Linked DNA regions of Homo sapiens. Each later gene encodes a partner of the first gene's protein in a complex. Each region holds a gene or a part of one and is shown on either strand. Other genes may lie near its edges.

Region 1 (5,965 bases):
TCTCAAAAAAATAAATGTGGAAGACGCTTTTGGGAAGAGAATACAATTGATCCCATCTTTCTAAAGGATAATGAGGTAACAGGTATCAATATTTTAAATGTACTTTTTTTTTTTTTTTGAGATGGAGTCTCAGTCTGTCGCCCAGGCTGGAGTGCAGTGGCCTGATCTCAGCTCACTACAACGTCCGCCTCCCGGGTTCATGTGATTCTCCAGCCTCAGGCTCCTGAGCAGCTAGGATTACAGGCGCACAACACAACATCTGGCTAATTTTTGTATTTTTAGTAGAGATGGAGTTTCACCATGTTGGCCAAGCTAGTCTCAAACTCGTGACCTCAGGCATCCACCCGCCTCGACTTCCCAAAGTGCTGGGATTACAGGTATGAGCCACCGCATCTGGCCTAAATGTACATATTATTTAAAGGACTGTACAGATAAGTACAGGGCCAGGTGTGCTGGCTCATGCGCGTAACCCCAGCACTTTGGGAAGCTGAAGCAAGAGGACTGCTTGAACTCAAAGAATTTGAAACCAGCCTGAGCAACAAAGTGAGGCACTGTCTCTAATTTTTAAATAAATAAATATTATTTTAAGAAAGAAAGTAGGACTAGGCGCAGTGGCTCACGCCTGTAATCCCAACACTTTGAGAGGCTGAGGCAGGTGGATCACAAGGTCGAGAGTTCAAGACCAGCCTGGCCTAGATGGTGAAACTCCATCTCTACTAAAAATACAAAATTTAGCCGGGCATGGTGGTGGGCACTTGTAATCACAGCTACTAGGGAGGCTGAGGCAGAGAATTGCTTGAACCCAGGAGGCAGAGGCTGCAGTGAGCCGAGATTACGCCATTGCAGTCCAGCCTAGGTGACAGACTGAAACTCCATCTCAAAAAAAAAAAAAAAGAAAGAAAAAAAGCTGGACAGAATCATATTTCAGTTGTGTCACTTACTAGTTTTGTAGACTTGAACAAGTGGTATAGCTGATCTAAGCCTCAGTTTCCTCGTGTAAAACAGCAATAGTATATATTACTTAGCAGTGTTTGAGAAATCAATCAATAAATGTATTCAGAATAGTGGTTAGTCAATACGTCTTCGGATATTATTTTTCTTTCTTTAAGCACCTATCATATAACTGGCCTATGCTAGGTATTAGATACACTACATGGTTTCACCATGTTGGCCAGGCTGTTCTCGCTCTCTTGACCTCGTGATCCACCCGCCTCAGCCTCCCAAAGTGCTGGGATTACAGGCATGAGCCATCGTGCCCGGCCTATGGCCTGTTCTTTTTTTTCTTTTTTTTTTTTTTTTTTTTTGAGACGGAGTCTTGCTCTGTCACCCAGGCTGGAGTGCGGTGGCACCATCTTGGCTCACTGCAAGTTCCGCCTCCCAGGTTCACGCCATTCTCCTGCCTCAGACTCCCAAGTAGCTGGAACTACAGGAGCATGCCACCACGCCTGGCTAATTTTTTGTATTTTTAGCAGAGACAGGGTTTCACCATGTTAAACAGGATGATCTCAATCTCCTGACCTTGTGATCCGCCTGCCTCGGCCTCCCAAAGTGCTGGGATTACAGGCGTGAGCCACCGCGCCCGGCCTGGCCTGTTCTTTTTTTGAGACAGAGTCTTCCTCTGTCAACCAGGCTGGAGTAAAGTGATACAATCATGGCTCACTGCAGCCTTGACCTCCTGGGTTCAAGTGATCCTCCCACCTCAGCCTCCCGAATAGCTGAGACTACAGGCATGTACACTACACCTGGCTAATTTTTTATAGAAATAGAGGTCTCATCACTATGTTGCCCAGACTAGTCTCGACATCCTGGACTCAAGTGATCCTCCTGCCTCAGCCTCCCAAAGTGCTGAGATTACAGGTGTGAGCCACCATGGCCAGCCTAGTACTTACTTTTTTTTTTTTTTGAGACAGAATCTCACTCTGTCACCCAGCTGGAGTGCAGCAGTGTGATCTCAGCTCACTGCAACCTCTGCCGCCCAGGTTCAAGCGATTCTCCTGCCTCACCCTCCCGAGTAGCTGGGATTACAGGCACCAGCCACCGTGCCCGGCTAATTTTTGTATTTTTAGTAGAGACAGGGTTTCACCATCTTGACCGGGCTGGTCTTGAACTCCTGACCTCGTGATTCGCCCACCTTGGCCTCCCAAAGTGCTGGGATTACAGGCATGAGCCACACGTCCAGCCCGTGAGCCACTGCGCCTGACCTGTATTTACTCTTTAAACTATATATTGCTTTGTATTGTTTTCCAATACACGATACAATCTCTAAGCTTATCTGTAAATTTAAGGCACAAGGCATTTATTTATTGCTAAATTTTAAAATTTTTCTTAGAGATGGGGTCTTGCTCTATTGCCTGGGCTAGAGTGCAATGGAGTAATCACTGCTCACTGCAGCCTCAAACTCCTGGGCTCAAGCTTTCCTCCTTCCTCAGCCTCCCAAAGTGCTGGGATTACAGGCTTGAGCCACTGCACCCTATCCATTTATTTCTTCTGTACATCTTCCACCTCGCCTAGCCCTGAAATATTTCTCAAATTAAAGAGGTTCCAGGGCCCTGGGCACACCCACCCCCAACAGACTTGTTGGAACAGGTACCTACCTCAGGTCATTCTTTAGTTCCACGACCACATCCTTGCCCACAAGGGACTTGAAAAAAGAATAGAAGAGCTATTGGGAGAGAGGGGGAAAACCATCATGTGGGAAGGAGCATGGTAGGGAGGAGTGTCCTTTGACAGTATTACCAAATACTGGTATTGTGAACCCCACTGCATCCCTGACAGTTCTCAAAATTTCACAGGAAAGAATAATTGGTTGACAGAGCTGAAAGGCTGGAGCCCAAATTATTCTGCACACTGCACTGAGCCCATCACTTAAAGTCCCAGAGAGACTCTGCCCTGCATACGTCGGCCTCCCCACTGTGCTCTCTCAGTCGACCACCTTTCTCGGGTACCTGCCCACTCCTTTCAATGAATTGTAGAAAATATCCCACCCGCACCCTGCCGAAGCTTGCCTGGCAGAGAAGTGCTCTGAGGTCTAACTTTTCCGTCTCCCGCTATCCTCACTGAATCTCTCTCAGGGTTGGGGTTTTTTCCCTCATCATGGAAAAAATATCCCATTTGTTCTCAGTGCCTCCTCAATGAACCTGAGAAACAGTACAGTACTAAAGATGAAGATAAAAACTCCGGACCTAACTCCAGCCTAGGGGTACAAAGGCCAGATCCCCCGCCCCAACCATGCGAGGTCCCCGAGGGCGCCCCCTTTTGACGTCACGGTACCCACCATGGTGCTGGCGCCGCGGGCAGCGGGCCGGACCGGGAAGACAGCAGGGTGCTGCGAGCAGGTCTGGGGAAACCGAAGCGCGAGCCCGCGCGTGGGGCGAGGCGGGACCGCGCAGGCGCAGCGGGAAGCGACGCAGAAAGCTCCAAGCGCTGACGGGCAAAGCGCGGCCGACTTGCGGCTGGGGAGCGCAAGCTGGGTAGAGTAGAGGGGAGGAGGAAGCCGGGAAAGGGGCGGGGTTTCCTTCATTCCGACTTCCTCCCTGGCCGGCCGGCTCCCATTGCGCAGGCGCGGACCCTAGCCTGGGCTGCCAGACGGGTGGCGGGACTCAGCGCCTGAGCTCAAAGGATTTTGTTCTTTTCCAGAATCCTGCCATCTACAGCGTGATGTGTTTGTGCCCTACACACACTTCCTATCGAGAATTGTGGGGAGTTTGTTAAGATTATGAAGTGTGCACTTTTCTATATTTGTTAAAGTAAAAACATAAAATTTAAAAAATAAAATTAAAAAATGTTTTGAATCTTAAATTCAGCTGATAAAAAGAAAAAAAGGCCGAGGGCCGTGGCTCAAGCCTTTAATCCCAGCACTCTGGGAGGCCTAGGTGGGTGGATTGTGTGAGGTCAGGAGTTCGAGACCAGTCTAGCCAACATGGTGAAACCCCATCTTCACTAAAAATACAAAAAAAATTAGGCGTGGTCGCAGGCTCCTGTAATACCAGCTACTCGGGAGGCTGAGGGAAGAGAATCGCTTGAACCTGGGAGGCGGAGGTTGCAGTGAACCGAGATCGCGCCACTGCACTGCAGCCTGGGCGACAGAGCAAGACTCCGTCTCAAAAAAAAAAAAAAAAAAAATGACCGGGAGCAGTGGCTCACACCTGTAATCCCAGCACTTTGGGCGGCCAAGGCAAGTGGATCGCCTGAGGTCAGGAGTTCGAGACCAGCCTGGTCAACATGGCGAAATTCTGTCTCTACTAAAAACCCAAAAATTAGCCGGGTGTGGTGGCACGCGCCTGTAAATCCAGGAGGCATAGGTTGCAGTGAGTGGAGATCTTGCCATTGCACTCCAGCCTGGGCAACAAGAGCAAAACTCCATCCCAAAAAACAAAAAATGTTGAGGCCTGTAAATCCCAGCATTTGGGGAGGCTGAGGCAGGAGGATCATTTGAACCCAAGAGTTACAGTGAGCTACAATCTCCCCACTGCATTCCAGCCTGGGTGACAGAGCGAGACTCTCTCTAGAAAAAAGAAAATTATAAACAAACAACGTTGAGCAGTCCCAGAGATAAGGAGGAGCTGGAGCACAAATTTTGATTTTATCAAAGGTTACCAATAAATACATTTCTCCAAAGGAGCCAACCTCAATCTCCGCATTTCTTACACACTTTTGCCAAGACTGTCCTGTAAAGGACTGTGTAAAACTAAAGAGACTGTGGCTCACAGATACAAATAACCCAGTCTAACATTTCACTGTTAAATGTTTCAAACACAAACAGACAGAAATGCAGTTACATATTATTCTAACTCATATCCCCCAGGTTTTTATAAATATGTATTAGGACACAGGTAAAAGAAAAAAATGTTTTTGAGATGGAGTCTCGCTCTATCACCAGGCTGGAGTGTGGTGCCACGATCTCAGCTCACTGCAACCTCCACGTCCCGGGTTCAAGCGATTCCTCTGCCTCACCCTCCTGAGTAGCTGGGACTACAGGCACGCATCACCGTCCTCAGCTAATTTTTGTATTTTTAGTAGAGACGGGGTTTCACCATGTTGGGCAGGATGGTCTCAATCTCTTGACCTCATGATCCGCCCGCCTCGGCCTCCCAAAGTGCTGGGATTACAGGCGTGAGCCACTGTGCCCAGCTGGTAAAAATATTTTTTCATGGACTGAGACTTCATAAAACTTGTATTTGTCATCTTGCATAGACATACTTATTTGTCAAGAGTTTGTTATAGAAATATTTTCTGGGGCTGGGCACGGTGGCTCACGCCTATAATTCCAGCACTTTGGGAGGCTGAGGTGGGTGGATCACCTGAGGTCAGGAGTTCAGAACAGCCTGGTCAACATGGTGAAATCCCGTCTCTACTAAAAACACAAACATTAGCCGGGCATGGTGGTGAGCGCCTGTAATCCCAGCTACTCATGAGGCTGAGGCAGGAGAATCGCTTGAATCTGGGAGGCAAAGTTTGCAGTGAGCCGAGATCGTGCCATTGCACTCCAGCTTGGGCGACAAGAGCGAAACTGTTTCCAAAAAAAAAAAAAAAGAAAAGAAATATTTTCTCCATGTAATGGATGTAAACAATGAACTCTGTGAGTGCATAGATGCTGAATCTCCTGGACCTTACCTATAAGTGACATCAGGACATCAAGCAGGATTTGTCCCTCCACCCCCAGTTGAGTCCTAAACTCCAAAACCAGCTTGTAACTGATTAAAAGCAGTTATAGTTTGCCATCTGTTCCATCTGTGCTAAAGGTGTCTGAGGATCAAAAATTATGTGGCTGATTGAAACAATGAGTTCATGGGCCGGGCACGGTGGCTCACGCCTGTAATCCCAGCACTTTGGGAGGCCGAGGCGGGCGGATCACGAGGTCAGGAGATCGAGACCATCCTGGCTAACACAGTGAAACCCCGTCTCTACTAAAACAATACAAAAAATTAGCCGGGCATGGTGGGGGGCACCTGCAGTCCCAGCTACT
Region 2 (3,500 bases), on another chromosome or scaffold:
CAAGATCTTGCCACTGCACTCCAGCCTGGGCAGCAGAACCAGATCCTGTCTCTGGAAAAAAGATAGCAGCAGTCACCCCTAGGTGTTGGGATTGGAGGTGATCTTATTTTCTTTTTATTTTTCTGACTTTTCTAAATCTCTGATAAACTTGCAATTAAAGAAAAAATAACAGAAAATGTGTTATATGCAGTATTATTGGAGGTACTATTAATATTTGCAAGTGTTCAGACCTAATTGCGGGGAAATGATGGCAGGATTCTACAGGTATATTTTAGAGCAGTTGTGAGATGCATGTAACTATTTGTAAAGGTTCATACAGATGATTACTAGATCAGCATAAATAATATGTCTGTGGACGTTTTCTGCAGGACTTTGATAACTTGTTACCTGAGTGAAATTTAATTCCTGGGCGATTCTGGGAGATGGTAAAGTGAGGCGGAAGGAGCCAGCGGCCAATTCCTGAACTATTCTGGGAAACGGTGGCGTGAGGCGGAAGGAGCCGGTGGCCAAGGTCCCAGTAGTGTCACATGATCTTCCCGCGTGTTTGCTGCACTGGGAAAAAATGTTGAAGAATTAGTTTGAAAATTGCCCCGTTGGCCAGGAGTGATGGCTCACTCCTATAATCCCAGCACTTTGGGAGGCTGAGGTGGGAGGATAGCTTGAGCCTGGGAGGTCGAGGCTGCAGTGAGCTGATTGCACCATTGCACTCTAGGATGACAGAGTGAGACCCTGTCTCAAAAAAACAAAACAAAAATTGCCCTGATCCACACAAATTCTTGGTTTTGTTTTTATAAATGTGCTTCTATAAAATGAAAGCCAAAGTGTTCTGTTATTTCAGTTTTTTTTTTTAATCTCCTTTTAGGTTAAAAATTTTGCAGTTATTTATCTTGTGGATATTACAGAAGTGCCTGACTTCAACAAAATGTATGAGTTATACGATCCATGTACTGTCATGTTTTTCTTCAGGTACGTTATCTTAAAGTTGTTACTGAAATTGAATATTGTCAGTTTGGAAGCTTAATGTAATCAAGATCTCTTTAGATTATTTTATTTTGAAGGAAGTTGGTTGTACAGTCATGTCCCAAAATCGTTTGTATCACCAGGCAATCAGTGTGAATCTTTGAAATAATTTTCAAAGTAACAATTCTAGTTTTAGCATTTACTCAGTAACAAATTACCCTTTTGAAATAACTTTGCGGGGAAACCTAGGTGAAGTGTAATTCAATGAAAGATGTTGTTACTGACATTTTAGATACCTGGAACTATAATCTGTTCATCAAAAATGTTGTAAAATCACAAATTTAGGCCGGGCACAGTGGCTCAAAGCGCCTGTAATCCCAGCACTTTGGGAGGCCGAGGTGGGTGGATCACAAGGTCAGGAGTTCGAGACCAGCTGGGCTAAGATGGTGAAACCGAGTCTCTACTAAAAATACAAAATTAGCCGGGCGTGGTGGTGCATACCTGTAATCCCAGCTACTGGGAGGCTGAGGCAGGAGAATCACTTGTACCCAGGAGGTGGAGGTTGCAGTTAGCCGAGATCATGCCATTGCACTCCAGCCTAGGCAACAAGAGCAAAACTCCGTCTCAAAAAAAAAAATCAAAAACCTAATTTATTAAATATGTTATCATCAACTTCGGTGTCCTTTTTTATATCCAAGAGGAACACCTGAACTACTTTGCTTATAAATACAAGATTATTTTATCAGCTCAAAAATTTCATTATGGAAATTTAATGGGGAAAGAAATCACCATCTGATGCTGTTTTTACTTGTTTAGTTACCATAGAGGTTGGTGAATTAGCTACATGAGCATTAGACCATTCTCCAAAAGTGGAGCCTCCTACTCGGTAAGGAAGGTCAGGTGGGTTGTATAGGGTATGCGTTAGTTTTGTATTCTTTGTAACAAATTAGCACGCATTGAGCAGCTTAAATCACCCCGCTTTTCTGAGCTCACAGTTCTGTAAGTCAGACATCCAGGCAGGGCCCGCTGGATTCCTGCTCAGGGTCTCACAAGGTCTGAACCATGGGCTGGGTGCTTATCTGGAGTGTTTGAGGGGCTTGTTTGGGTTGTGGGCCGAGTCTGGCTCTTCGTGGTGGTGGGTCTGAGATCTGCTTCCTTGCTGCTGTTACCTGAGGCCACTCTGCTGCCAGAGACCCAGTTACCCTCAAAGCCAGCACTGGCATGCCGGCACATTGAGAACTTTTCACACAGGTTCTCTGACCTGAAAAGTTCTGCCTGAGAAAATGCTCTGGTTTTAGAGGACTGTGATAAGATTAGACTTGCCCAAATAATCCAGGATAGTGACCTTGTTTTATTTATTTATTGAGATGGAGTCTCACTCTCACCCAGGGTGGAGTGCAGTGGCACCATCACAGCAAGCTTGAACTCCTGGCTTCGAGCCATCCTCCCGCCTCAGGCTGCCAAAGCGTGAGGCACTGCCGTGGTTCTGGGCGTCGGGATACGCTCCCCTGGACACGCCCTTGGCTTCCTAGGTGCCTCCTGTTAGGTTGAGAAGATCTGTGAGGTGCACCCTGCATTTCTTGTGAACTTTTCATCTTTCCTAGGTTTCAGCAAAGGTTGCGTGGCTGACCCTCATCCTTTTCTCTACTGTGTGTTCAGCAGCCATTTCTGAATTTCAGCCCCTTTGGCCATCCGGAGAGGCTAAAGAATTTATTCCTTTTGTTAACAGTTCTTACACTAATTTGCCTCTTTCCTCTCTTGAAGGCAGCACCTCCGAGACTTTGCTTGGAAGTTTCCGCAGCTAAATATCCCGAGTGTGTTGCTTTTGAGCTCTGACTTCCTATAACTGCGGACCCCGTGTCCCTGTTCCTCGGCCACTCTGTAACGGGGGTCCCCTTTTCTCCGTTTCCCAGTAACACACTCCTCACTTCCTTCCAAGCCCACACCAGGTGTTCCTGAAGTCCATATTTCTGTTAACAGCCTGTTCGAGGCAATAGAGGCCTTTTCTATTTTGCCCCTCAGAATTCTTCAGGTGAGAACAGGGAGGGCCGTCTTAGGTCTCTGCCCCCCACAGCGTGCAGTGGAGGCCAGCCTGGGGCTGGAGATGCTGTGAGGGGCAAGGAGGCTGCAGGCAACAGCCTTGGGTGGCGGGAGCAGCCTACTTAGTGTAGTTTGATATTTTTAGGACTGATGCTGTACTCAGAAAAGGAGATGAAACTTCCTTCTGCTGTTTCTGTGATTTAGAATTTTAAGACAAACGGTACTTTAGTTAACTTATGCACCAAACATATATCTTGAGCCCCCACCAGGTTTGTGGTCTAGTGGTGGAGCCTAATGTCAGATAAGACAGGATTCCCACTCTCATAGGACGTTGTCTGATAGAAACAGCTGAGTAAATTAGCAGGGGGTTCTGAAGAAGTGAAAGGAGGCAGATGTTTATGAGATATAAATACCGAAGAAGTACACCCAGGTCAGATAGGGCTGCAGGGAGGGTGCTACGGGCAGCCCCCAGTCATTGTAGAAGGAGCTTGGTGCATGCT

Evidence for each region. Proteins that work in one complex are often made in the same cells at the same time.
Region 2: LSM2 (region 1) and TXNL4A share a complex: the UniProt entries of both Homo sapiens proteins name them as parts of the precatalytic spliceosome.

Annotation. Positions count from the first base shown.
Region 1 is NC_000006.12:31,803,481-31,809,445, forward strand, and holds the start of LSM2 (U6 snRNA-associated Sm-like protein LSm2), read right to left. Parts: upstream 3,487-5,965; 5' UTR 3,278-3,486; coding exon 3,275-3,277; intron 2,663-3,274; coding exon 2,595-2,662; intron 1-2,594. UniProt on the Homo sapiens protein: Plays a role in pre-mRNA splicing as component of the U4/U6-U5 tri-snRNP complex that is involved in spliceosome assembly, and as component of the precatalytic spliceosome (spliceosome B complex).
Region 2 is NC_000018.10:79,975,064-79,978,563, reverse strand, and holds part of TXNL4A (thioredoxin-like protein 4A), read left to right. Parts: intron 1-862; coding exon 863-966; intron 967-1,776; exon of another isoform or gene 1,777-1,846; intron 1,847-3,500. UniProt on the Homo sapiens protein: Plays a role in pre-mRNA splicing as component of the U5 snRNP and U4/U6-U5 tri-snRNP complexes that are involved in spliceosome assembly, and as component of the precatalytic spliceosome (spliceosome B complex).